2 linked regions of the Homo sapiens genome follow. The protein of the gene in region 2 purifies or fractionates together with the protein of the main gene of each other region. This does not show direct contact. Each region holds a gene or a part of one and is shown on either strand. Other genes may lie near its edges.

What was found.
Region 1: the proteins of SEMA3C (region 2) and NRP1 purify together in Homo sapiens (co-immunoprecipitation; one large-scale study listed by IntAct). This does not show direct contact.

Annotation. Positions count from the first base shown.
Region 1 is NC_000010.11:33,177,587-33,181,405, forward strand, and holds part of NRP1 (neuropilin-1 isoform a precursor), read right to left. Parts: intron 2,780-3,819; coding exon 2,490-2,779; 3' UTR 1-2,489. UniProt on the Homo sapiens protein: Cell-surface receptor involved in the development of the cardiovascular system, in angiogenesis, in the formation of certain neuronal circuits and in organogenesis outside the nervous system. Mediates the chemorepulsant activity of semaphorins.
Region 2 is NC_000007.14:80,916,134-80,920,430, forward strand, and holds the start of SEMA3C (semaphorin-3C isoform 2 precursor), read right to left. Parts: upstream 2,919-4,297; 5' UTR 2,695-2,918; intron 687-2,694; coding exon of another isoform or gene 649-686; coding exon 546-648; intron 1-545. UniProt on the Homo sapiens protein: Binds to plexin family members and plays an important role in the regulation of developmental processes. Required for normal cardiovascular development during embryogenesis.

The sequences.
Region 1 (3,819 bases), on a different chromosome or scaffold from region 2:
TTTATGCTACTCAGTGTCTGAGAATACAAATGTCATTTAAAGTTAAGGCTTCGCTGTTCATTTTGAAACAACAATTTACAAGTGTCATATTGTCATAGAAAATAATAATTTCTGTAAAAAAAATCTGCACAAAATCTTATGATGGTACAAAACATGAAGCAATAATATACCAGTAAAATGAAAACATTTTACTACAGAAAGTTTTATAGATTTCCATAAAGAAAAAATATGTTATTTTACACCTTTAAAAATTACAAAACAATCTAAAACAATATAAACTGAACATTTTGTAACACTGCCTTTACAAATTAATAACTTTATAAACATATAATTTTTAAATATATTTATCAGTGCAAGATACTTTAAATTTTAAAGTTGCAGTATCATTTTTCCTTGGCTGAGGACAACTTTAAGTCTGTTGCCTTTAAAAACAACAAACGAGTGTTTCTTAGTGCTTTCCTTCTGGTAGGATTATATCAACTAAATGAATGTCTCTGGGGACAAAAAACTATTCTTCTTTCATGGTGATCAATATTTTCCTGGAAACAAAAGGCATTCTCAATCCAATTTAACTAAGATGAATGGACTGTCTCGTCTATGATGCAAATGTGACTCCCAACAAATGTCTTTGAGTGAGACGTCTAGCAATGTGGGAAGGAAGATCTAAAAAATCTCATGTCCAACATGGCATGATAAAAATCCACCAAAACCAACCAAAGCTTCTTTGGGTTAATTCATAGGCTGCCTGGTAAGATATTTGCTTCCCTGTGCTGTTAGAGGCTTAGATGTTGCCAGCCCTAAGGCAGGCTTATTCTTTGTGAGCCGCTGGAAGTTTCTAGAAGCATTCATTTAAGTCTATTTTTTCAAGGTTGCTGTTATGAATTTTTAAAACATTTGTTTGACTTTATGTGTTTTTCCCCCTCTTATCTTAAAATACTTGACCCCCAGGCATCAGGATTTATAGTTTCATTCTTAAATTAACTGTTCTTCCTTCCACTTCCCTTGTGTGACTCAGTAGCAAAATAAGAAAGTTCTCTTGGGTCATTTTTGCATATTTGGATAGAAAAATCTCATGCTTTTGGATTTGGAAGATTTTATCCAGTTCTTCCTTTGGGTCTCACTTGAAAGCCAATTTGTATTATTTCTTTCCTCAACTTATCACTATTTCTACTAAATGCCAACATTTCTATCAAAGGTCATTTTGAATAGAATAGATAAGGAAAAAAGATACTGTCACTTTAACCAGTTAACAAGAAAACCAAAGTTAGACTTTGGAGGGCAAAGTTAGGAATTTCCCTTATTTATTTATTTTTAAACATAAAGTCTAGTAAAATCGTTTGCCATTCCCAGCAGGTTAAAGCTGCAAGTTTCTTTCCTGGACAATGGCAAATCCTCCAATTCTAAGAGAGAAAAAAGACAGAGAGATAGGAGAGAGAAAGAGAAGAGAGTTTACATTTGAAAATACATTCCATATGAAAGAACAATAAGAGAGAATATTGTAGCTTTATACAAAAGGGTCAAGAAACATGAAATTGAACTACAGAAAAAGCAGAACAATTAAGCCACGTTGCCAAATCTTCAGAGCCCTTGCCTGCCCGGAGGGGCTGGCATCTCACACGAAAATAAACTTTCTTCTTAGTCAGTGGGCCACCAGAGTTTGATTAAAGAGCAGGGCTTTCACCAGCAAGAAGCAGAGTGGGTCGTTAATGTAACACAATGAACCAGTACAAACAAAAAGGCACTTGAGAGGACATAGACTAGCCAGTGCCAAGGATTTGTGTTTTTGTTGTTGCGGTTGTCAGCAGTATACCCAGTGGCCAGCCGTGTTCAGGGATGGCACCGTTTTCTGTATGGAGTTCACAAGCACGAGGTTTAGTACAACACCGGAAAAACAGCAAGAAAACTGGACAGTATTGCTTCGTAAACAGAGCTGACACACTACACCAGTACTGAGGCTACAGTACTTTAAAAAGAAAACAGCCTAATCCTTCTTTGCCTATGCACGACGCGGGCAATTATACACAAGTACAACTTCAGGAGTCCACTGAAATGCGGTGATTCTAGTATATTCTGGGCACTGGGTTTCAGGTAGCATGTCCATCCAAAGGGCCACACGGAATACGCTTGGTGCCAGCATCTTGGATTTCGCTCAGTTTCCAAAAAGAATCCACAAAGGGGAGAGGAGAGAGAGAGAGAGGGGCAGGAGGGGTCGAAATGAATGATTATGTCAATCATACTTGGTCTCAACACCAGCATCTGATTATTCAAATGAAACCAACAGGAAAAAAGCTGACTGCACATGAGTCCGATGGTGAACACAGCTCCTTGTCCATGTCTGTCGGCCATACTCATTGAAGCTCCTGAGAAAAGCCTGGCTCAGTGGTCATCAACACACTTCCCAGCCTGTATAGTGAAAGATCAACAGCTCCCCAGCTCACTCCCGTCCTTCCACTTCCGTCCTTTGACTGTCTTTTCATCTCTGTCTGCCTTCATGCCTCCGAATAAGTACTCTGTGTATTCAGTTTGTCTTTTTTCAACTTCACACCATCCACAAGTTCAAAGTTATAGTTCTCCAGGGCAGACAAGTTTCTTTCTGACATCCCATTATGCCAACAGGCACAGTACAGCACGACCCCACAGACAGCCCCCAGGAGGACCCCCAGGGCACTCATGGCTATGATGGTGATGAGGATGGGGTCTAAGGTCTTCAACACATTGCCTGGCTTCCTGGAGATGTTCTTGTCACCTTCTCCTTCACCTTCGTATCCTGGCGTGCTCCCTATGGAAAAAAACAATATTGTCTCCGTGAGCACCGCCAACAGACCAGATGAAAGCAGACAGAAAAATAGAAAGGAACGAAACAGGAGCAAATCACACACCCCAGTTTTGCCTGTCATATCTGACTCATTGTTGGGAACAGAAGTGTGGGAGGTGGTAGAGGGGAGTGGGCGCTGGGGCTTCTGACAGACTGCTTAGCACGTGGAAACAACCCATTCTGGATCAACTGGGAGGTTCCTTGCTCATCTAACTCAGATTTCATGCAGCCCCATCTGTCCTAGATTGTAATCTGTGTTTACAGTCCTTGGCTAGATAGGTGATCATTAAGTTTTGCAAAATGCTTAGTCACACATTAGTCTAGCAAGGGGATTTTACCATTCCCAGTGCATGTACCTAACCCCAAAACAGGCACAAGAAAAACCTTCATGGCTGCCCTTCTACGTGGTGCTGTTTCCAGGATCTGGCATGGTTTATGCATGTGTTTGTTCTCCCATATGGAAAATCTTCAAGTGAAACGAATTTTGCCCAAAGTCTACAGTAGTTTCAGTAAAGAAGGAGTGATTTTTTAGAACAAGAGAATGCTTGCTGCTGACATGTAAACAGAGTGTGGCTCAAATCGAGAAACCATGTCTGTCATGCCAAATAGAAGACATTTACTAATAATCAGCATCTTTGCAGCCCTGGTAGTTTAACTGGAGACAGTTGCACTGCTCTGCAGCTCAGTCACTGGGGACTTGTTTTCTTTGGAGTGGAACAGGAGAAATTGTTAACATGGGAGCTTTGAGCCTAATTACCTGGTACTAGAAACGGGATGAAAATGTTAACGCACAATATGCCTGGGGTTTACTTAATGGTGTTCTGATCAACAAAGATTCCAATCAAAGAAAACTAAAAATATGAGATGCAAATCCCTAACCAAGAGAAAACAAGCCTTGGGGCATATTAATACTCTCTCCCTTGATGAAATATTGTTTTGAAACAACCTCTAATAAAGTTTACATCTCTGTGTGGACTTGGTAATGTGTTCATATTACTAACAGC
Region 2 (4,297 bases):
ATTTCCAATTATTCTTTTAGGTCCTTTTCAATTAATTAGGGGACTATGCCAATCTCAGGAAATCCTTGTGGAAAAAGAAGAAACACCATTAGAACAACACACGGAGTAACCAGTTTTGAGACTAATGCCCAAAAAATTAATTGGGAGAATTTTTTAGTAATTGAACCTGCATAGCTCTCTCTGCTGCTGAGGATTAGCACAAAGGGGCAATTTCTTAACATTACCAGGTGAACAGTAAGATCAAAGATGCTAGGCTTTGAGCTCGTGCCCATCTCCTCTGTGAGTACACAGGCAAGCACAGAAGAATTATTTTACAAAAAGCAGCATATATTATAAGCATTTTCATAAATACCTCAAATCCAACAGAGGATCTTTGTCTATTAACCAATCATTTAAAATAGCTATTGTCCTCCAAAACGCAGCCCAGTAAATATTTTTAAAATTAATATCCAGTAATATTTATACTCTTAATTTCTGAATCTGGATAAGGAAGATAACAAAACTTAAAATAACATTTTTCCCAGAGTGTTTATCAACTCTCTTACCATCAAATGTTAAATAAACTCTTGCTTGGGGCTGGGAAGATCCTTTCACACAGATAGAACAAATAAATACTCCAACCAACACGCAAATTGTCCGGAATGCCATTTCTTCAGATATGCAAGTTAATATCCAAGGGAAAATACCTTTAAGAGAGAGACAACATGTTTGTTATATCTCATTTCACATTTTAGGAGTAGGAAAAAACAGCAATCTAGACAAAACACCCTATTCACAAAAGAACCATCTGAACTTTTACAGTAATGCAAACAGTAGGAGGTGCTGTGTCTTTGCTTCTCAGATGTGAAAATGTGGATTTGATTCATTTGTGTCTGGAAGTCTTTGCAACAAGAGAAACTTTCATCTTCCAGCAAATTGATGCTACCATCAAAACAGAACAAAGCAGTGAAGAAAAACACTGATACCCAAAGGAAAGCCCAATATTTTAACGGATCTTCTCTCTAGAAATCCATTACATTAAAAAGACTTGAATAGAATTGAGCTAAAAGAATATTACTGGATGAGAACTCTTTCCCCCCACTAACGTAACAGCAGCAGCAAAATCTCACATGAGCATTCATGTGTACCTACTCACTTCAATAGTCATTAGCTCTTTTGGAGTAATTGTCTCTGGAAGTGGTGTTTCCTTACATAAATCTATGTGTGCTCAATCCTGGATCACTGAAGTCACTGGAATCAGTTATCTGCCATTTTATCCAGATGACCAACAGGCAGTTGTTAAATGATGCAGTTGAAGTAACCATGGACTAGTGCCAAATTCAAACCAATGACCTAGTGGTGAGCAATCCAGTGAGCCATGTATCCACCAATGCATATTTTAAATAAATCAACCAGAATGTGGGCTGTCAAAATTCCCAAAGATAAATCAAAGAGACAGGTGTCACTGCTTCAAACTATAGATATAAAATTGGTACATGCTATTAACTAATATCTGAATCCCAAGGAAGACCAGATAATGTGTTACCATAAACCTACAGGAGCTCTAGTGGCTACATCATGTAAAATAAACTCAGGACCATTAAAGAAACACAATCATTTTGCTTCTACCATAATTACACAATAAAGTGACCCAAGAGTCCAGTAAAGAAATTTATTTTTACAGGTTACAACAATGCTGATCTTCATTATTTGGCTTTTCAAATTAAAATTTCATAGTCAAAATTATTAAATTCTTTGTAAGAACCACTAACAACTGAAAAAGACAGCTTCATTAATACAGAATAAAAAGAATTAAATGGAATATGCAATTTTAAACAAAAATTGTAAGTAGATTTCCTAGGTGGTGCATATGTTATGAGAGTTAGAAATGAAATTGTACGCTTCTTTTACCACACAGATGGAGGAAACTCTAGAGATGTTTGTGTTGGTAATTTTCAAAAGAAACAGTTTCTTCCTGCTTCCACAACCTCTTCACCCTGTCATCCCTAAATTAACTTAGAAAGAAACTGATTTTATGGGTGACTTTCCCTCAGTAATTTACCCCTTGGTTCTGTTGACTTCATAGTTAAAGCCAAAAGAAAAAAACTATTAATATGCCTAACCTTTGTTATGTTTACTGAGCAAGTTGATATTATTTACACATTTTTTTTACATATTGGTATCTTACCTTATATGTTTCTCCCAAAAGTACATATACAACCAATTGCAAAGAATACTGGTGATACAATGGCAGGTGAAACGAAGATAGTCTACAGGGCAATTTGATTTACATCCCACCTAGTGATGAGGAGTGAAAGACTGAAAGCCAAGTGTCTTAAATACACCCCCGCCTCCCCAACAGTATCTTACAACTTCTTCCCTTTAACTCAGACACAGACGTTCCTCTTGGTGTTTTCACTTCTGCTGATCGCAAACTAACAACACATTAAGAAAAGAATTCTCTTATCTCCTCTGGAGCAATTTTGCCTTTGAAGGCACTGTAATACTCAACTTGAAACTCTCCGCAGGTGTCACCGCCTAAAGAAACAACTCGAGCAGGGCTCTCAGCAAGGGGAAAGCTTCCCTGACAAACCGCGTGTGTTCTTAAGAAAATGTCCAGGCTTGAGCATACCAATGTATGAAAAATCAATATACAGGCCAAAAAAGTTATACTTTGCTAAATCTGTAATGCGGAAAATGACCAATTTAGCTTACCGAGGTTGAAAGAAATCAGCACGGAAAAGTCATCAGTTTGCTACCGGGGTTGGATGCGCTTGTGTCTCCAGTCCTTTTCCCAGACGACCTTATTTTCTAGCACGTCGCAAAGGTGAAATTCTTTCTTCCCGGTCCTCTGAGTTTCTTTGTAAAGGAATCTCAGCGCTGCAGTGCCGCGGCACCCGGAGCTCTTCTCCGCGTCGCTCAATCAAGCACCTCGGAGTGAATGGAAAGTGGCCGGAGGCCGGGGGCGAGCGCTCTTGGTGTCCGATTACAGCGCCGCGGCGCGCGGCTCCGGCTGCCCCGGCGCGCCGCCCTGCAGGCTCGCATCACCACCGCGCAGCCCCGGCCGCATCTCCGCCAGCCGCGAGGCCCCACCCCGAGCGCGCCCGCGAGAGCCTGGCAGGGAGCCGCGGGGGCGGACCGGGCGGGGCCGACCCTTAGAGCTCGCGGCTGGCCAGACGCAAGAATGCGCGGCCGCAGGCTGGAGCCCTAGCTCCGCAACCCTGCTCCTTTCGCAGTCCGCGGCGGAGTGAGCAACTTGCTGGGTGCGCTCCACGGTTTTTGTTGCCGGCGGCTCTCGAAGACTTACACAGGCTTTGCCTGGCCGTAAATATCAAAGTGCAAAGCAGTTGTGGTTTTTTATTTTTGCCAGGGAAGGATCACTGCAGCCTTTTAAGGCAAAGAGATGCGTTTTTAAAAGGACGTGAGTTTTGTCCTTATTCTGCTGCGTTTTTTTTTTGTTTTTTGTTTTTTGTTTTTTGTTTTGTTTTTGGAGAGGGAATCTCACTCTGTCGCCAGGCTGGAGTGCAGTGCAGTGGTGTGATCATGGCTCACTGCAACCTCCGCCTCCCGGGTTCAAGCGATTCTCCTGCCTCAGCCTCCTGAATAGCTGGGACTACAGGCTCCCACCACCACGCCCAGCTAATTTTTGTATTTTTAGTAGAGACAGGGCCAGGATGGTCTGGATCTCTTGACCTAATGGTCCGCCCGCCTCAGCCGCCCAAAGTGCCGAGAGCCACCGCGCCGGGCCTCTGTTGCGTGTTTTCTAAAACAGGTCAAGATAAACGACAATCTTGTTGCACAAGTGTATCCTTTTAATGGGTATTGTTTCCTATTGAGTTTCCTTAATGCCCTGAAAGCAGTAATTCTGTTGACCCCTCCACGTTGACTCATATCCAGTACGTTGTCCCCAACCATACTCCCAAACATAATTACACGAAGAAATTATTTGACAATTCTATGTGGAGAGGCTGTTCTGAGTTATGCCAACAGATTGCCATAACCACACATCTACAGAAATACATCAGAGGTATTTTTCCAGCATTACTTTCAGGTACACTCGTTAAACTCTGGAACTGACTTTGATGTTTAAGTGAAAATTACTTCTCCGGACCACAATAAACTAGATGTTTAAACATCGGGAGAAATGAGCTTTGATCCCCATAAAACAAGCAGGCACTTGCTTAAAATCACTGTGGGGCACAGCCCAGCAGATGTCACTCTACAGAAGGAACGTGGAGTGTAATATCTCCACCTTATACCTGACAATTCACATAATGAAACAATCATTAAATTCTTATAAACTGTATCATAGAAAACC